Regions from separate parts of the Homo sapiens genome. Here region 1 is linked to region 2. A link means that fine-mapping ties the variant in region 2 to the expression of a gene that starts in the linked region. Tissue or cell type: tibial artery. Region 2 holds a variant in brackets; the other region holds the start of a gene. All regions are shown on one strand. Distances are between the middles of the regions.

Evidence for each region. PIP is the estimated chance that this variant, and not a neighbour inherited with it, causes the effect. A credible set is the group of variants that fine-mapping cannot tell apart.
Region 1: it holds the start of LINC02188, and the variant in region 2 is the best candidate, but not a certain one, in a credible set for the expression of LINC02188 in tibial artery (GTEx, PIP 0.59).

What each region holds. Positions count from the first base shown.
Region 1 is chr16:86,716,318-86,726,890 of GRCh38, forward strand. It overlaps LINC02188 (long intergenic non-protein coding RNA 2188), which reads left to right and starts at 5,774. Exons shown (of 3, transcript NR_135183.1): 1 at 5,774-5,814. It overlaps LINC02189 (long intergenic non-protein coding RNA 2189), which reads right to left and starts at 5,642. Exons shown (of 2, transcript NR_135181.1): 1 at 5,448-5,642; 2 at 4,367-4,686.
Region 2 is chr16:86,682,391-86,692,963 of GRCh38, forward strand. No RefSeq gene overlaps it. Among named protein-coding and RNA genes, the nearest start is that of LINC02189, 34 kb to the right of the region's middle. The variant C/G (reference allele first, on the strand shown) is at 5,689.

The DNA.
Region 1 (10,573 bases), 34 kb after region 2:
TCATCCACACATAGCAGACATTCCTGACTTACATTAAAAATAGGCTCTCTCCACACCCCCCACATGCACATCTCCCTTCTTTTTGGGGTTAAAAGGATCCAGCGCTTTTATTCAAAGGGCGTCCTATGATTCAGATTTTGTAGAATTCAGAATTCTCAGATTTGAGAGCTTTGAAGACTTCAGAAGGCCATCCAGTTCAGACTGATCCCTCCTTCTATCCAAACAGATCATTAGACTGATGGGAAGATCAGGGAAGACCCTCCAGGCAGTTACTAGAGCTCTTCCTTTAAGCTTCCTTAGCAGTAAACTCAGGCAAACTAATAAGATCCACCTCCGAAGGTCGTCGTGAGGATTAAACCAGATATGCATGTAATGTTCTTAGCAGTATGCCAGACACTCTGCAAATATTCAATAAATGGCAGCATTGTGATTGTCTTGACCATCTTCAACATACAGTGTTTTCTTTGTTTCCACACCACCCTTTTGAGTCCGTCAAGCCTGCAGTTGGCTCACAAGTGGAAGCTTCCTTCCCGGGCTCTGTTACAACATAGGAGGCAGAGCTTAAAGCTCCTTCTAGACTGGCAGGAACCAGCTCTCACCTCCGACAGGGGTGAGGCCAGAGGCGTGGGAAAGCCAGATGGGGTGGCGGATGCCACGGTGCCATGGCCTCCTTCAACCCTCAGGTGTGCAAGGAGGCAGGTGACCTGGGATGTTCTGCAAAACAGGTAGGTTTTCATGCCATTGATTTGATTCTCCTGAAACTTAGCCAGTGAATTTTTAAAAAGGGATAAGCCTCAAAGACAATGTAAACAAAAAATATGTCCTGGGCTTTACATCGGTAAAATGGTCTTTTCCTGCCTCGTGTTTTAAATACAGGCTCAAAACAGCAGGATGAGGAAGGGTGACTGTTAACAGGTACACAGATTCTTTCTGAATTGATAAAAATGTTCCAAAATGGACTGTGTTGAGGGTTGTCCAGTTCTGTGAATATACTAAAACCCACTGAATTGTCCACTTTAAATGGGTGAATTGTGTGGTACTTGAGTTATATCTCGATAAAGCTTCTTTTAAAAGTAGATTTTAAAAAGTATTTCATTATTTTTAGACACTTTCCCCAAACACGTATTACCAACACTGGGAGAGACGTAGAGAAACAGACTGTTTTCAAACCATTTTTGAGTTATTTGAGTTTCAGGTGTGTTTTGTGGTTTTCCTCATTGGCAAAAGTTTACTGTGAGTGAATCGAAGCTTCTTGTCGTGTCGAGGGGACCATACTGAGCCTTGGAGGCAACTAAGCAAAAAGAAGGAAGATGGCTCAAAATAAGGGCCTAAGTTATTCCCTGAGTGCATTCAAAGGAGAAAGATACTAAGGGAGGTCGAGCTAAGCCAGGAGGGCTTCATGGAGGAGGGAACTGAGCTGGAACCTCCAGATTTAATAAAAGTAACAAAAAGTTCTAAGAAATAATAGCAGCGGCCCTCCTTCACCAGGCACTGGCCCTTCCCCAGGCCCCCTGCCTCCTGCACTTCACAGTTCTCCGGGAGACACAAGTGCCATTTGAGGAGGGGGATGTCGCCGCCTGCCTTGCCTGGGCGATCCCCTGCCAGAAGCCAGAGAGCAGGGGCCACTGAGAGCCCACGTGGGCAGCTCCCAGGGTACTGAGGAAGAAGAGAGGCAGTGATGAGGAGATCCAAGCCTGAGACATCCAGCACCTCATGGGGGACTTAGGGTGGGCTGGAGAATAACAGGCGCAAAGGCGTGGGAGGGACAGAGGGGTTTCATCAAAGACAGCAGGCCCTGGCCTGAGAGGTGGGGCTGACTGAGGATGGCCACGAGGTACCCAGCTGTCCTAAGCTCGTGAATGATAGAGGGGTAGGTGGTGTCACCTTTCTCATTAGAATGTGCTGGGCTGTTGTGTAAGTTCTCTTCATTCACTCACTCTAGGTCCTCACTACCCAAGGCGTGGTCCTCAGACATCACCCGGGAGCTGGTTATAAATGGAGAGTCTCAGGCCCCGCCCTGGAGGCCCTGGTTCAGAACCTGCGTTTCAGCAAGAGCTCGAGTGATTCAGGCAGGTCACTGCACTGCTGTAAGTCACCCCCCTGGTTTGGGGATGTGGGAGTGGCTGCTGGCCAGGAACAATCAGTTTCAGGTTTAAACGTGGGATTTTCCACCCTTGCGGCAGGGTAACATTGTATCAAGAACAGGAAATACTGGCTGCTTCTCGCCTTCCTTCGTCCCAGGACGAATGCCCCTCATCAATTGCTGCCTGCTTCCCTGCAGACCCCGGGGATGGCCCCATTATGCCTCTCAACACAAGATGCCTGTGCCTACATTGTGTCCATTTGAGCTGGCAGATGTATATATAAGATTGCTCACTTATAACTTTTGGCAGAAATATAAAACTCAGGGATTATCAGAAAACAAATCCTATAACTGTCTTACATACAATCACTTATACCCATGCAATGCCACGGCCAGTAAGGAAAGAGGGAACTCAGCGTGGAGGTCAGGGCACAGGGAAATGACACGACACCTTTGAAGGGTAAGCCCCGAAAGGTCAGTCTGTGTGCTGGGGGTCCCGTGGACACATCTGTCCCTGGGCATCCCTCCAAAGATGAAGGCTGAATATGTCCCTTGAGTTTGGCGTCGAAGGATGGGCCCAAGAGGCCAGAGGACACGCAGCACAGGGAGACAGAAAGTCCTTCCAGACAGAGAACAAAGCCACCAGCTCTTGTGCAGAAAGGTGAACTGCGACCTCAGTAGGCGGTGCTCATCTGTCACAGGTGTTTGTTTGAGTTTGACAATGTGGGGAAAACAGTAGTTCTGTTCTTTCTTTGGTTCCCAAGCATATCTGAACAATTATTCTTATTTTTTAAGCATGTAAGAGCTAAGTTTCACACAGAAATGACAATACCGATAAAGCCATGTGACTTTGACGATTGTGGAAATGGGTCAGTGGGTGAATTTAAGTTCTTCTTCCTTATTTAAAACACTACACTTGAGTTGGATGCTTCAGTCCCCTAGTGTACTTTGTTGAGAGAGGCAAAGATCCAGTTCTGAATCTGTGCTCGGATGGCTCTGGGCAAATTGGAGGACGCGATTGAAAGATGCAGTTGTTCCAATTCATGGTGGCTCGATTGAACAATGACGGACCTGGACCTGGACCGTGCAGGTACCTACAGGCCCTGTGAGTGGGCCTTGGGAAAATGGAACAAAGCAATCGCATGCTGCCTCTGATCGGATTGCTCTCAGTGCCAAGTGCAGTATAGACAGAAGCTAGCAGTGGGTGCAGGGCAGCGTGGCGTGCTGGGAAGGAGCTACCATGCCGTCTTGAGATGTTGCTGGCAGATCCTCAGTAGCTTCAGACCCTGCTGGCTTGAGATGATGCCTGCAAAGCCTCAGTACCTTCAGACCCTGGCACTGACACACCGGAGAGTCACTGGGTGGGGGGCGGGCTCTGCGGCTCCCCATGGTTCGGGTTTTCCTGGCTCAAATGGAGATCACGGTTGTGTTTCAGGTAGGGCCTGGCACTGAAAATGCTTGGTATGGGTGGAGGTTGTTCTTTTTACCCACACATGATCTTTAAGATTGTGCTAGCGCATCTCACAAGACATTTGCTAAAACTGAATTGTATAACTTGCTTTGTGTTCAATGAGGAGGGAGCAGCCACACTGGAGAAAGATTTCAGCCATGACTACTGTGTATCACACATGAAATCCTGGCTTAAGGCTGTAGGACTCCATTACGCTGTTCCATGCACACACTACGTCTTTGCAGGTATCATGTCATTAGGTGTGATAACAGCTCAGCATTTTTACATTCTCCAAGCTATCATCATGTGCAAGGCATATTAGCTCCTCCTAGCCCAAAGCCAATAGAAATGTCAGTATGGCCCAAGGGGTGCCTGAGAATTTAAACCATGACACTTGAAGCAGGTCTAGGAGAACCACCCTGGAGGAATGGGCTGCAGGTGCAGCCTCTCCTGGATTTACAGGCTCATTCCCCAGTGGGCATCATCGTGGCTCCCACCTGGGTTCATCTCTTGAATCAGTTCTCTCTTCTGCATGGGTATCTGGGTATCCCTTGCAGAGTGCACACCTTTTTTATTTTTTGACATGATTTCAGATGTGCAGAAGAGGAGCACAAAAATCTCAAGATACCCTTCACCCAGAGTCCCCAAAATTAATATTTACCATATTTGTTGCATCTCTCTCTCTCTCTCTCTCTCACACACACACACACACACACACAGAGAGGAAGTTGCAGACAAGATGTGCCTTTACTATTAAATACTGCTGTGTGCATTTCCTGAAAACAAAGGGATTCTCTTCTGTAACCACAATGCAATTAACAAAACCAAGGATGTGGCATTGACACAATTCTATTAGCTACAGACCTCATTCACGTTTTTTCAATTGTCCTAAGACTGTTTGAGCCAAAAGAATATCCAAGATCATGCCTGGCATTCTGTTGTCGCATCTCTTTAGTCTCCATTAAGCAGAAAATCTTGAGTCTTTGTCTTTCATGACATTGATGTTTATTTTGTAGAATGCGTCACCATTTCAGGTTGTCCGAATTGTCCTTGTGGTCAGATTCACGTCAAGACTTGGGGCAACAACACCAGGATGTAATGTCCTCATCACATATATTGATCACGGGGCCTGTGGTGTTGATTTAGCCCGCTGCTGGTGGTAATACTTGGGTTATAGTTTTTGTACTGTAAAGTCACTATTTCACCTTATGTAGTAAGTTACAAGCATCTTACTAGGAGATCTTTAGTTAATTTTCCAAAGATTTAACGTGGAGCGAGGAACTCAATCAATGTTGAGCTCCTCTGAGAATCTAGCCCAGCAAATCCCAGTAGAGTGCAGACCCGGGCTGTGGGGAAGGCACAGGAGAAAACCTTTGAGGGGCCTTCAGGCCGGAAGGAACTTTAGCTACTCACCAGGTCTGCCCCCTTTTTGGCAGAAAGAGAAACTGGGATCTACAGGAGGGGCGTGCCTAGGGTACAAGGCAGAGAAGGGCACAGATGGCCAACTTCACCCTCTTGTGCCCTGGGATGATATAGGTTCCTCACATCACAGTAAGAGAGGACTTGCACCCTTCTGCTCACCAAGGGAACAAATGCAAACTAGAGAACTTGTGGGCATCTTAGACAGGGCTTTCATCTTTTTCTTTTCCTCACCCTCCTGATCATCCTCTGGTTCCTATTATTAAGAAAAAAAAAAAACCTGTCTGTCTATCCAACTGTCTTGCTATCTCTATCTGTGTATCCTTCTCCATAGCCAACCCTTTTTTATTTCTACTATGTATATATTTCTATACATCTGCGTCTATATCCACATTGCAATCTCTCTCTTTCTCTTGGTTTTCTTACCTTTCAATGTTAATTGCTAAATGGGAGTAGAGTGAACAACAATAAGAGCAAAAATATAATTTCCTTTACCTTTGCAATAACATTCATAAGGTATTACTGGGAAAACATTAAAAATGGGACCCTTGTTTGAAAGTAGCAGGCAGGAAACACCAAGAAGCTAGAGAAATTCTCTTCAGAAGCCCCCTCTGGCCCACTGAGGGTCACCTTGCTAGAGGTCATCCCTGTCCCTACAGTGGCATCTTGTATAGTGTAGGGCACTGGCTGGGTGCCAATCCCGAGTTGAGTGTTGTCCGATGCAGACACCCTTGGCTGATGACCTCAGACTTGCCTCGGAACCCTGGCTTTATGACCCAACTGTGTGCTATGGTCCAAATGTGTGTGTCTCCCTCAAATTTGAATATTGAAATTCTCACCTACAATGTGATGCTATCAAAAGGTGAGGTCTTCGGGAGGTGAGTGGTTTGTGAGGTAGAACCCTCATGCATGGGAATAGTGCCCTTATGAAAGAGCCCCAAGCCCGGGCACGGTGGCTCACACCTGTAATCCCAGCACTTTGGGAAGCCAATGTGGGCGGATCACCTGAGGTCAGGAGTTTTAGACCAGTCTGACCAACATGATGAAACCCCATCTCTACTAAAAATCCAGAAATGAGCCGGGCATGGTGGCGGGCGCCTGTAATCCCAGCTACTTGGGAGGCGGAGGCAGGAAAATCGCTTGAACCCGGGAGGCAGAGATTGCAGTGAGTGGAGACCATGCCATTGCACTCCAACCAGGGCAATAAGACTGAAACCCCATCTCAAAAAATTAAATAAATAAAAATAAAATAATAAAAAACGCCCCAGAGAGGCCCCTTGCCCCTTCCAGCATATATGGACTCTCGAGAAGGTGCCATCTATGAGTCAGGAAGTGACCTTCACCAGACACTGAAGTGGCCAGGGCCTTGATCTTGGACACCCCAGCCTCCAGAACCGTCAGAGATAAATCTCTGTTGTGCATGGGCTGCCCAGTGGATGATATTTTGTTACAGCAGCCCAGGTAGACAAAGACACCAAGTTTTCTTGTCATGAGATCTGAATGAATAATTCGCTGTGTGTGGTTTGACACTGCAGTGGCTTTTCTGACCCTCCACCTGCCACAATCTCCTTCCTGGATTAAACTCCTTCTCCTGTACATGCCGAGATGTTTCTGTTCCCCGGTTGTGTCTTGACCAACAGTCTTCACGAAGTCTTTCTTTTCAAGCTTACTCTGTCATGATTTTGGTGTCTGGTCATGCCCGGAAATGGAATAGAAAGACCTAGGATTCTCCCTTCACCCTAAGGGAAATCCTTGCTTCGCTGAAAATGGGTGAAGCTGTGGGCTGAAAAAATATGTGTTCCTTCTTTATCTGGCTTCTCTTCACTCAGCTTCTCTGTTCAGTCCCTGCATTATTCATTTTTGGTGCACTTCCAATGATGTCTTATTTCACAATCAGCCGTAATACTGATCATAGAAACTTTTGTATGTGCTGCTTTTTGTGCAATAAATCTCTATTTCAAGCAGTACTCCAGTGACTAGCTAACAGGCTATCTGTTTCACAGCTATGTAGGATAATTGAGGCCTACTATTACTTTGAGGTTTAATTTCTGAACCTAATTGTGTGTGTGCATGCGTGCAGGTGCGTGTGTGTGTGTGTGTGTGTGTGTGTGTGTTCGGGGGAGTCTGTGCACCCATGTGTGTGAACCCAGAATCATACAGGAGACAGGTGAATTGGTTGGCGTCTTTGAGTGGTGGGCTTGAAGGCACACAGCCTTCCTGGTTGACCTTAGACCGGTAAATTCAGGCCTGTTAAATTTCAGGTAAGGTCACTGCCATTTAAGGAGATCTGTTTTGCTTGAATATTCTGACTGTCAGTCCGCAGACATAGGGAGTGTGTGAGTGTGAGTGTGTACCAAGATGAGGAGGATAATCAGGCTCCGGCTCCGTTTTTCTGACACTTTTATGGCTGCCTTTCTTCTGTGCCTGGGCTTCGTTCTCATGCTCTTTCCCTCGTTGTTGCGGGATGGTGGCAGCATCAGCAGCTGCAGAAACTCTTGTTCATTTCCTAGCTCCGAGGAGCGTCATTTCTCCAACTTGGAATAAAAGCCCATCCTCTACCTGATTGGGCCACTCAGATCAAGGGCTTAACACTAGCAACAGTTGCTAAGGCACTGCTAGAAACCGATTAGCTGAAGCCTGGGTGTCTGAACCAATCATTGCCAAGGGGGCGGGACTTGCCCCATCCCTGGAACTATGAATGTCTCAGCCCCTTGAGATCACCTGGGCGTGGAAGAAAGTTGAAAAAAGAAATCAGAATTCGCTTAGGATGTAGGAGGTAGTGTGGATGCTGGGACAGCGACCAGTGCTGTCTACTGTAATTCCCAGTTTGGTGATGAGCAGCGTGAGGCTCAGGAGGATTAAATTTGCCTAAAGTTGCAGCTGGCCAGTCAAACATTGGAAACCAGATGTATTTTGGCTCTAAAGTCTTGTGGGTTTTCTTTGAACCCACAACTACTCTCTATAGATTGGGGACGCTGTGCCAAGCAGCTTTGTAGACTACCAATTACTCAGCCAGCCTGGGAATCGCTGCAGCATTATTGACAATAGCCAAAAGGTGGAAGCAACCCACGTGTCCATCAGTGAATGAATGAAGAAAGAAAATGGTGCATCCAAGTAATGGAGGATTATTCAGCTTTAACAAGGAATGAAGGGTGGGCACCTGCTACAACATGGATGAAGCTTGGGGACATTCTGCAAAAGAGACAGTCACCAAAGACAAACACTGTGTGATTCCACTTTGATAAAGCACCTAGAGTAGGCAGAATCATAGAGACGGAAAGTAGAAGGCACCGGACGCAGCGGCTCACGCCTGTAATCCCAGCCCTTTGGGAGGCCGAGGCAGGTGGATCTCCTGTGGTCAGAAGTTTGAGACCAGCCAGGCCAACATGATGAAACCTCGTCTCTATTAAAAATACAAAAATTAGCTGGGCGTGGTGGCATGCGCCAGTCATCCCAGTTACTCAGGAGGCTGAGACAGGAGAACTGTTTGAACCCAGGAGGCAGAGGTTGCAGTGAGCCAAGATCGTGCCATTGCACTCCAGCCTGGGCAACAAGAGTAAAACTTCATCTCAAAAAAAAAAAAAAAAAAAAAAGAAAAACAAAAAGAAAAAGATAGTAGAAGGGTGATTGCCAGGGACTTATGGGGTGGAGATGGGGAGTTATAATTTAGTGGGGACAGCGTTTCAGCTTAGGAAGATGAAAAAGTTCTGGAGGTGGATGGTGGTGATGGTTGTACAATAGTATGAATACAGTCAACACCACAGAACTACACGCTTGAAAGTGGTTATTGTGGTAAATTTTGTTACGTATATTTTACTACAATATAAAAAAAAAACAATTTTTTAAAAAGTTGTGCTCCAGAGAAAGTGGGCATTTTAACTTCTGCGTGGAGGGGTTTGGCTACAAGGTTCAAAACATCTGTCATGACTCTGGAGCCTCCGAAGCCTCCTAACTTCACTGGCCAGTGATGTCCGCTGCCTCTTCCTCTCTTGAATGTCATCTGGAAAAGTGAGCGGTGATATGTGGAAACGCTTCTCAATGCTCTTCCTGACAGCAATAGTTGGCCTGACACTAGAATTCTTCTCCACTGTACACTGACCCCCGTTGTGTGTCTGTTACCACCACGTTACTCGCCTACATTTTTAGCAATGTGTGACCTTGCACGTTTCCTGCCACCCTGCGCTCCTGACATGAGTAGTCTTGCATCTCTCTCCCCAGCCAGACAGCATGCATGGGCCAGAGTCATGTGCTTGGGGAAAAGGTGGGTTGTATCGACTCCACAACCAGTCAGAGTGCAGTGGGCCCATGTTTTGTAAAACATATGTTTGGCAAATGACTCCCTGTGGGTTGCAGAAATCCAGATGGGGGAAGTTTTCTAAGTGTGATGTCAGAATGTTACATCTGCTGATCCCACGGGTGCATGGGACCAATAAGAAGACGTGAGTTGGTTTGTCCGAGAAATTGCACGGCGTGGAGATCTGGGGGGCACATTCGAATCTGGAAAACAAAGGCCATAATGTGCACAGCCCTCTTTGGGCTTGCGTATTGTTAGAGCTAGGAGAAGTCTTAACATTGCCTAAAAGAGCTCCCAATTTTATGCACGAGGAAACTGAGGCATGGGGTGGTGGGTAAGGTGAGTTGCTCAAGGCTGTCTAAGGCTGGAACTTGAACCTGGGGCTCTGTAGTCTCAGCACAGCACCCTCAGCCCCATCACGCTGGACTAAGGCAGAGATTAAGGTTCTGGGTGTAACGTCAGACTGCCTGGAGGGCTAAGGCTCTGTTCCATCTGCTGAAAAGCTGTGCCACCCTGAGCCTCAGTTTCCTCATCTGAAAGCAGGGATTACAACAGGGCTTGTAGGTAGGGGTGTGTGTGCTGGGGGTGCTAAGTGATAGTGAAGATGATGAGTGTGAACAGGTGATGGACAGCAGCATGTGCCCAACACCGTGCTCAGCATTTCATGTCCAAATTCTCACTATGCTCACTCAGCCTCCATGCAGCCCCACAACATGGGTACCACTATCTTATCCTCTCCCATTTAATAATGAGGTGGCCAAGGCTACTTATGAAAAGAAACGAGGCGGTGCCTGTTGCATACAAAGATCCCAAACCCTAAACCTCTTTTACACATAGCTGGGAAGAAATGCATTTACTTTCCCTGGCCTTGGGCCAGTGGGTTGTTTAGAAACCTTCAGGGGAGCAGGAAGATGCAGCCCACAGCACGGAGATGGCCTTCCCGGGTCCTTGAGAAACAGGTATTTCATGCTGTGTTGGCACACAAGAGCCGGCCAACAATCCCTGTGCTTGTCTGCCTGGACTGTTGGGTAATTTTACAAATTGGCTTTTACTGGCAGGGGAGGTGGGCAGATGTAGGTAGTGGAATATTCCAGTAGGTCACAGGTTCAGATCCAGCCTGGTGGTTGGTGACTTCTGGGGTCATCTGCCCTCTGAGAAGCTGTTTGTCTATACTGATTGGGAACCTGGATCAATGCATTCAGCGAAGCCTGTTAACCTACTTGATTCCAGGCCTGTGCTACCTGCTGAAGACACAGTGGTGAACAAGACTGATAGAAATCATGTATTGATGAAAGTTTGAATCTAGTAAAAAAGAGAGATAATCATC
Region 2 (10,573 bases):
TGCCAAGTATCCTTATGACAGTCAGAGAAGATGACGCAGACACGGGACAGAGCAGGCCGTGGGGAGACAGAGGCAGAGGCTGGAGTGACACAGCTACCAGCCAAAGAGCACCAAGGTTGGCTGGAGCCCCCAGCAGCGGGACAGAGGCGCAGAACATATGACCACAGGAGCACCTGGAAAGGACCAAACCCAGCAACAGTTGAATTTGGACTTTTAGCCTCCAGAACCATGAGAAAGTAAGACTCTGCTGGACTGTGGCACGCACCCGGAACACCCATCCAGCCGCCCTGAAGGATGCAGGCCTCTCCGCCTTTGGTTCTCCTGTGCCTCTTCAGGTATGAGGGGTTCCAGCACCAGGCTGGCCCTGGCAGCCGGGAGCCAGGTCAGTGCCTTCCAAACATCCCTGCCCTCCACCACATGCAGGGGCCTTCCCAAAGGGAGAGGCTGCATTGCTCAAGTCTCCAGCAGGTCCTGGGCACGTGTATGTCCCTTCCTCCTACCCATGCTCATCCCAGGAGAGCCATGGCTCAACTATTTGACAAAAACGTATAGCACATCCGTGGGGTGCCAGGCCCCACTGCAGGGCAGAGGACAGTGAACACGACCAAGTTCCTTTCCTTGAGTGTGTTATGTGGGAGGGTGAGAGAGAGGGAACAATCAATGAATGAAGCAAAGAGAGGGAGGAGGAGGGAAGGAAGAAAAGAAGGAAGGAGGGGAGAAGGAAAAGAAGGAAGGAGGGAAACAAGGGAGGGAGAGAAGAAAGGAAGGAAGGGAGGGAGGGAGGGAAGGGAGGAAGGAAGGAAGGAGAGAGGGAGGAAAGAGGGAAGGAAGGAGGGAGGGAGAGAGGAAGGAGGGAGGGAGGGAGGAAGACCGTTCCATGCAGTGATAAGCAAAAGGAAGTGAAACCAAGTCTGTGGAAAGGTGGAGTGTGCTGGGAGGCTGTGGAGGAAGACTGTCGGGTGGGGCCGTGCACTGTGCCCACGTGGAGGCGGGCACCCCAGGGGACCCTGCGCTTGCTATTTGACTGGATTCTCACGGCAGCTCTCAGAAATCTGCACCATGACTCCGATTTGACTGATGGAGACCCAGATACCCAGAGAGATTAAGCAGCTCCGGCCAGGCCATGGCTTACATTCCAGCTCCCTCTCACTGGGTGACAACTGGCTCCCTCTGTCCCCCACGTGGTAAGAAAATCCACAGCCTTCTTTGATTTTGTTCATAAGTCTTGGGGTTGACTGGACTCAGCCAGCACTTCTCCCTCAGGGTCCTCAGGCCAGGGCAGTGAGACGTGCCAGGCTGGGGCATCTCTCGGGTTCTTCCCTCACAAGGCTGGAGCCCAGCTGGGAAGACCCAAAATGGCCGGTGTTGCAGCTGCTGGAGGTTCTCTCTCCATCTTCCTCTCCCCACCTGTCTCCACCTCTCCCTCTTCCTCCCTCTCTCCACCTCTCCATCTGCCTCTCCCTACCTGTCTCTTCCTCCCTCCACATCTCTCTTTGCCTCTCTCTTCGTCTTTCTGTGTCTCCCTCCATTTCTCTCTTGTCCCTCTCTCTATGTCTCTCTCTCCATCTCTCTGTCTCTCTCTTCATCTCTCCCTGCCTCGTTCTCTCTCTGTGTGTTTCTGTCTCTCCCTCCACATCTCTCTGTTTCTCTCTCCATCTTTCTGTGTCTCCCTCCATTTCTCTCTTGTCCCTCTCTCTATCTTTCTTTGTCTCTCTCTCCATCTCTGTCTGCCTCTTTCTCTCTCTGTGTTTGTCTCTCTCTCTACATCTCTCTGTGTGTCTCTCTCCATTTCTCTTTCTCTCTCTCCATCTTTTTTTCTCTCTCCGTCCATCTTTCTTGTCCCTTTCTCTATCTCTTTTTGTCTCTCTCTCCATTTCTGTTTCTCTCTCTGTGTCTCTGTTTCTCTCTCTCTCTTTCTCTCTCTCTCTCTATATGTATATATATGTGTGTATATATATATGTGTGTATATATATGTGTATATATATGTGTGTGTGTATGTGTGTGTGTGTGTGTATATATGTGTGTGTGTGTGTGTGTGTGTGTGTGTGTGTATATATATATATATGCCATAGGGTGATTGGATGTCTATTGTGGCAGTGGGAGGCTCCCAGAGTGAGTGTCCCAAGAAACTTGGGCAGAGGTGGCCTGGCCTCTCCTAGCCCACCTGGGAGGTCACACAGCAGCATGTCTGTCATGCCCCACTCAGGATGCAGCTGCAGAGCCTCGCCCTGTACAGTGGGGTAGGGGTGGGGCTGCCCCTCTCCATGGCAGGAAGGTCACAGAAGGTGCTATGGGTTTTACATTCTCCCCAGCTCGGCCCCACCCCATATCATGCTCATCAGCCCTCCCCTTCCCACAGCTTCTCACACCCCCCACTCTCCCCGTCTCCAGCAGGGCTTCACGTCCACCTGCTTCCCTGAGAGGCAGTGAGATGCTCTTTCATGGAGCGGGCCAGCTGGCATGGCCTCAGAGGCCTCCTCACCACAACTGGGCCTGCTGGACCCCCGCCCCCTGGGCCGGTCCTCCCCAGCTATGAGAATACAACTGCACACCCAGGAAGGCCAGTTTGGGCAAATTCCCGGGATCCATATTCTTCCTGAGACATGGCTGCAGAGTTGTCAAACTTCCTGAAGAAATATTTGTTATAACTAAAGTGTATTTTGGGTGTTGGAAATATAAACTTTGGTGCTTGACCAGGTGTGACCATAGACTAGTCCATAATGGGATGAAATGCACAGTCCGTGGATTTCCACCACAGGTTTATATTTTTAACATTTACAACCAATAAATGTTGGCTCCAACATCAACAGAAGAAAAGGAAGACCATAAATCCTTCCTTTCCAGTAGTAAAGGGAGTGGAATCCCAGACCATAACCCTTGCTATCATATTTTAATAGCCACTGCTAATGGAATGCTTACCACATCCAGATTCTGCACTGAGGTTTTGCATTCATCATCAAAGTGGGTCTTTCAACAACCCCATTATTATTCCCATTTTGGAGAGAAGAAAACTGAGGCTTAGAGATTGTTAGTCACTTGCTCCAGGTCACATGTTAGCAAAAACCAGAGCCGGCTCAAGAATATCCCTGTCACTAAATGGACATCCCATATTATCACATCTCTGTCACTGAAGCTTTTCTGTAAGGGGCAGAATATTTCAAAAGCTACACATCCGTTTTCTCTGCAGAATGTGATCAGAATGCTGCACCTTCGAAAAAATTATTTGTGACATGAAACTGTGGTACTTGGCTGAGAGTTTTGAGAAAAACAAGAGTTGGTAGGTGGATTTATTTTGAAGGTTAGCCTTCGACAAGGTTCAAGTGAGCTAGTTCTCTTAGAGAATTCCTTAGACAAGAGGAAAGGAGGAAGAGCGAGTGTCCTTTGTTTCCAGGGAGATTCTGACCAAGAACACACTAGACAAAACCAATGGGCCAGGTGTAGTGGCTCACTCCTGTAATCCCAGCACTTTGGGAGGCTGAGGCAGGCGGATCGCTTGAGGTCAGGAGTTTGAGACCAGCCTGGCCAACGTGGTGAAAGCCTGTCTCTACTAAAAATACAAAAACAAACAAACAAACAAAATAGCCGGGCGTGGTGGCAGGCACCTGTAATTCCAGCTACTTGGGAGGCTGGGGAAGGAGAATCGCTTGAACCGGGGAAGCAGAGATTGCAGTGAGCTAAGGTCGCACCATTGCACTCCAGCCTAGGCAACAGAGTGAGACTCCCTCTCAAAAAACAAAACAAAAACAAACAAACAAACAAAAAAACAATGAACCCAAAAGTTGCTTCTTTGAGAAGATCAATACAATGGATAAACATCTAACCAGGTTGATCAGGAAAGGGGAGAAAAGGCACAAATTACCAATTATTAGGGAAGAGTTTTTTTTTCTTTTCTTTTCTTTTTTTTTTTAACGGAGTCTCGCTCCATCGCCAGGGTGGAGTGCAGTGGCGTGATCTCGACTCACTGCAACCTCCGCCTCCCAGGTTCAAGCGATTCTCTGACCTCAGCCTCCCAAGTAGCTGGGACTAAAGGCACATGCCACCATGCCCAGCTAATTTTTTGTATTTTTAGTAGACACAGGGTTTCACCATGTTGGCCAGGATGGTCTCGATCTCCTGACCTTGTGATCCGCCCGCCTCGGCCTCCCTAAGTGCTGGGATTACAGGCATGAGCCACCAAGCCTGGCCAGGGATGAGATTCTTTTTTTTTTTTTTTTTTTTTTTTTGAGACGGAGTCTCGCTCTGTCGCCCAGGCTGGAGTGCAGTGGCGGGATCTCGGCTCACTGCAAGCTCCGCCTCCCGGGTTCATGCCATTCTCCTGCCTCAGCCTCCCAAGTAGCTGGGACTACAGGCGCCCGCCACTACGCCCGGCTAATTTTTTGTATTTTTAGTAGAGACGGGGTTTCACCGTTTTAGCCGGGATGGTCTCGATCTCCTGACCTCGTGATCCGCCCGCCTCGGCCTCCCAAAGTGCTGGGATTACAGGCGTGAGCCACCGCGCCCGGCCCGAGATTCTTGACATCACTGCAGATCTTACAGACAACTTGGGGAAAGTGGACAAATTGCTTGAAAGGCACAAACTACTAAGTTAACTCATGAAAAAATGGATAACCTGAACAGTCCTATCTATGAAAGTAACTATATTTGTAGTTAGAAACCTTCTCACCAAGAACACTCCAGGTCCATATGGCTTCACTGATGAATTCTACCCAGGCTTTAAGGAGACTAACGATTCCAAGTTTACATAAACTTTTCCAGAAAACCAAAAAGGGGAGAGCACTTTCTCATTCATTTAATGAGGTCAGCATTATCCTAATACCAAAGTCAGACAAAGCAATTACAAGACAAGAAAACCACAGGGCCATATTCCTCATGAACAAAGAAGCAACAATTCTAAATAAAATTTTAGGAAATCAAACCCAACAAAGGATAATGCATCACATGTAAGTGAGTCCCAAGAATGCAAGATTAGTTTATTTGAAAATCAATCAATGTAATTCATCATCGTGACAAACTAAACAAGAAAATCATGGCTGGGTGCGGTGGCTCATGCCTGAATCCCAGCACTTTGGGAGGCCGAGGCAGGCGGATCACTTGAGGTCAGGAGTTTGAGACCAGCCTGGCCAACATGGTGAAACCCTGTCTCTACTAAAAATACAAAAATTAGCTGGGCGTGGTGGCACATGCCTGTAATCCCAGCTACTTGGGAGGCTGAGCAGAAGAATCACTTGAACTAGGGAGGCGGAGGTTGCAGTGAACCGAGATTGTTCCACTGCACTCCAGCCTGGGCGACAGAGTGACACTCCATGAAAGAAAAAAGAAAGAAAGAAAAGAAAAGAAAAGAAAAGAAAAAAGAAAAGAGAGAAAAAAGAAAATCATGATAATCTAATAGTGGCAGGAAAAGCATCTGACAAAACCCAACATTCATTCCTAATTTAAAAAAGTCTGAGAAAACAAGGAATAGAAGGACATCCCCCTCATTTTGAAAAACACAGTCACAACTCACCCAGTATGAAATAGATAATTTCAATAGTCCTATAAGTACTTTAAAAATTAAATTAATAATTTTTAAATTACCACAAAAGAAATCTTGTTCATATGGCTTTACTGGAGAATTCTACCAAATGTTTAAACAAGAATTAACACCAATTTTATACAGTCTCTTCTGAGAAATACATGAGATGGGGATA[C/G]TTTGCAGTTCATTCTGTGAAGCTAGTATTACACTAATACAGAAACCAGACAAAGGCAATAAAATTTTAGTCTAATATTCCCCGTGAATGTAGAGGCAAACATTCTTGAGTATATATCGGCAAACAGAATTCAGTAATATATAAGAAGAATTATACACCATAACCAAGTAGGATTAATTCCAAGGATGCAGGCATGTTTCAATACTCAAAAATTATGAGTATTGAACATAATCCACCCTACTGACAAGTTAAAGAAGAAAAATCACATATTCACATTAATCAATGCAAAAAACAGCATTGATAAAATTCAACATCCGTTTGTGATTTTAAAAAAAGCTCAGAAAAATAGAAATAGGGGAGAAACTTCCTGACTTGACAAAATGCAACTACAAAAAGCTACAGATAACATTATACTTAGTTGTGGAAGACTAAATGTTTTCCCCCTAAGATTGAGAACACAGCAAGAATGTCCACTCTCCCTACTCTTATTCAGTGTAGTGCTATAGGTTCTAGCCAGAATAATAAACACCAAAATTAAAAATACAATTCCACTTATAATTGCTCAAACGATGTAGTAAACGTAACAAAACACATACCTTGTATGCTGAAAAATATACAATGTTGATGAAGGAAATCAAAGAAGGTCTTAATAAATGGAGTGATATACTGCATTCAGGGATTGAAAGACTCAACATAGTAAAGAGGTCAATTCTCTTCAAATTGATATACAAGTTTAATGCAATTAATATCAAAATAACGGCAGAATTTTTTAACAGATGGACAGGGTTATTCTAAAATTTATTTGAAAATGGAAAGAAACTAGGTAAGTTCAAATAATTTTGAAAAAAAGAAGAATAAAGTGAGAAGAATCAGTCTCCCCAATGTCAAGGGTGACTACATAGCTACAGTAATCAAGAAGGCAGTGATAATGGTGGAAGGATAGACATATGTCAGTGGAACAGAATAGAGACTCAGAAATAGAACCACACCAATATGCCCAACTGATTTTTAACAAAGATGCAATTCAATGGAGAAAAAAAGAGACTTTTCAACAAACAGTGCCAGAGAATAGCACATAGGCAATAAAATCAACATCTATGTAAGGTTCACATCTTATACAAAAATCAATTCAAAATGTATAATGAACTTAAATGTAAAATACAAAACTATGAAACTTTCGGGAAAAATGTCTTAGGAATATAGGCCTAGGCAAAAAGGTCTTAAGACTTAACACCAATAGCACAATCCACAAAAGAAAAAGATTGATAAATTCAACTGCATCAGAATTAAAAACTTTTGCTCTTGAAAGATACTTTTCTAAGGATAAAAAGAAGATCCACAGAGTGAGAGAAAATATTTGCAAACAACATATCTGAAAAAGGACTAGTATCCAGAATATATAAAGAACTGTCAAGACTCAGTTAAACCAAACGATCCAATTAGGCAAAAGACATGACGAAACATTTCACTGAAGAGATTACACCGATGGTAAATAAGCACATGAAAAAACACTGAACGTCACCAGCCTTCACAGAATTGAAGAGAGTTAGGGCCTTGCTCCAGATTAGGCTTTGGCTCAAGGCAATGTTGTAGTTAGTTTGATCTTTTATTCAGACCGTAAACCTTTCACCATATCAGCAGTAAGGCTATTTCACTTTTTTATCATTCATGTGTTCACTGGAGTAGCACTTTTAATTTCCTTCAAAAGCTTTTACTTTGCATGCACAACTTGACCAACTGTTTGGTGCAAGAGGCCTAGTTTCAGCGTACCTTGGCTTCTGACATGGCTTCCTCACTAAGCTTAATCGTTTCAGCTCTCGGTGTAAAGTGAGACCTGTGACTCTTCCTTTCACTCAAACACTTACAGGCCACTGTAGGATGATTCCTTGACCTAATTTCAATATTATTATGTTGCAGTGAATAGAGAGGCCCAAGGATAGGGAGAGAGATGGGGGAAGAGCCAGTGATACAGTTAGAACACACAAGCCATTTATTGATTAAGTTCACTGTCTTATAGGGGCATGGTTCATGGTGCCCCAGAACAATTACAATAGTGACGAAGCTCACCGATCGCAGATCACCATAACAGAAGTAATCATAATGAAACGGTTTGAAATACTGTGAGAATTACTCAAATGTGACAGAGCCATGACATAAGCACGTACTGTTGGGAAAATGGCGCTGATAGACTTGCTCCATGCAAGGTCTCCACAAACCCTCAGTTTGTAAGAAACACAGACAGTAAAGCACTTAAATGCATAATAAAACAAGGGAGGCCTGCACACTCCAGTAAAGCTCTTTATTTTTATTTATTTATTTATTTAATTAATTTATTTATTTATTATTTATTTATTTATTTATTTATTTTAAGATGGAGTCTCGCTCTCTTGCCCAGGCTGGAGTGCAGTGACGCGATCTCGACTCACTGCAAGCTCCACCTCCTGGATTCATGCCATTCTCCTGCCTCAGCCTCCCTAGTAGCTGGGACTACAGGCGCCCGCCACTGCGCCAGGCTAATTTTTTGTATTTTTAGTAGACACAGGGTTTCACTGTGTTAGCCAGGATGGTCTCAATCTCCTGACCTCGTGATCCGCCCACCTCGGCCTCCCAAAGGAGTAAAGCTCTTTAAAAAAGAAAGAGTCTGGACAAGTAAATGTTGCCCTTTTAGAGTTTTTTGCTTTTCTAACAGAAAGAGACGTTAGAGACCGTCTAACCTCGTTGTTTTCCAACTGTGTTTCTTGGAACCTGAGGTGGACTATGATTTGCAAAGATGTCCGCAATCATACCCTGATGCCTGTAGGCTCTCCCACAACATGGTCTTGCCTCACCTGTTACTGAGAGGGAGATCTGTGTTCCCTGTGGTTGAATTTGGTGGCCCTTTGACCATCGATAGAATGTGGTGAAAGTAAGGCTGTGTGACTCCTGTGACTAGGTCACATGGGCCACATGTCTTCCACCTGGTTCTCTGGAAACTCTTGCTCTGGAGGAAGCCAGCCACCAAGTAAGAAATCTGACAACCCTGAGACCGCCATGCTGGAGAGGCCACATGTGGATGCATTGGCTGACAGCCCCTGCATCAACACCAGCCACGTGAGCAAGACACCTTGGACACACATGCGGCCTGTCAAGCCTCCAGCTGCCTGCAGTCCAAGCCAACACCTGGCTGCACTCTCTTGAGAGACTCCAAGTGATGATTGCCCAGTCAATCCCTCTCTAAATCCCAGCCCACCAAATCGTAAACAAAGTAAAAGGGCAATCGTTTGATAGCACTGATTTCTGGGGTAATTGGTTACGTAGCAATAGTAACCAAACTAGACCATGCCAGGGATCCCTGGAAGGCAGGGAGAGGGCAGGGTGAGAATCTTCATGGTGGGGGTTCTGGTAGCCTCCCTCCCTCCCTCCCTACTTGCTCAGGTGAGAGGAATTCGATTTGTTGGAGGAAAGTTCCCCTGGTCTCACCTAGCCCCTTCATTTTGGAGATCAGGATACAGAGGCAAAGCAGGGAAGTAATGAGCTGAGGTTTACAAGGCTAGGACGTGAACATGCCATTTCTCACCCTAGAATCTGGCAACTCCAAGTCCAGGGCTCCAATCTGAACATATCAGCTGGCCATTGGGAAGTTCCCAAGTCAATTCTGGGCTTTCTTAGTGCTCCCACTGTAATCTCAATAACACAGATGTTTTTTCCAATTCAAGTTGTGAATCTTAAAGCAAATCTGTCAATTAGAAGAGAGTCATCAGGTTCTGTAGTTAAGGTCTTCCAGTGCTAATTCAAGCAATCTGCTTTCCATCTAGCAGAAGCTACACCCCACATGTGTGTCCTGTGTGATTGTAACTTTGTTTTTAAAGCACTACCTGGGGAAGCATTTCTTATAAAAATTGTCGAAACAACGTAACACTCTCACCCACATGTATTTCCTTTCAGTTTCAACCCATCCAGTCCTGGCAACTCCTATAAGCATCTGCTGTGTTACTTTTTTCCTTCTTCTCCTTTAATGCCAGGGACCTCGTGCTGGGGACCTCGGTAGACCAGGAAGCCACAGTTGGGAATGCATTCAGAGACCATTAGTTCAGGAAGCACAGTGAAATCCAAAGAAACCATGAACCAGTGAGTTGGGAAACACTCTATGAAAGGCCTTTTCAGGCAGTTTCTTTCAGGAGGAGTTTGTTTTTGGATTAAAGGAGTTTATTCAGGTATTCACAAATACCCAGGCTCTCGGCAGCAGCTGGAACGTGGAAAGCCCTCAGTCATAATCAATGGCTGTAGAGCAGACTGGCATGTTCTGCTTGAGCAACACAAGGATGAAAGGGGCATAATTAGGGGACACGCCTTCAGAGGAGATGAAAGGCCCAAGACATCCTCAAAAACGGAGGCAAAATATACCCTGAAGTCACTAGTTTCTTTATTTTGGAAGTAGCAGTTCCAATAAAAGCCTAGGTGTCAAAGGCATTGGGATGCAGCCAAGCCTTGGACGCGGTTGCTTTCTTTCTTTCTCGCCCCTGCCGCTCTTTTCTCGCTTGGGGAAGAAAACTGATGGAAATGTCACTCCTGTATTTCCTGCACTCCTAGCAAATGGTGTAAATGCCTCGCTCCTTAACCGGGGACTCCAGGCTGAGCTGACACTTTGATGGGCTTCCAGGCGGGGTGCATGAGAGGACCACAGGGGTTAATGGAGTAGGTCGGATTTGAAATCTTCCCCCACATCAGATTCTTCAGGGTTTTCTCAGTGGCTCATTTGTATTTTGGAGTCAGCTGGTTACAAAACAGCGCCCTTCCTCTGCTTAGAGACCTGAGAAAGCTTAGGACACTTCACAGTCCTCTTGCAAGCTCCCTTGCCTTGGAAAATTCTTATTTCCTCATTCAATTCAATACAGAAGATGAGCTG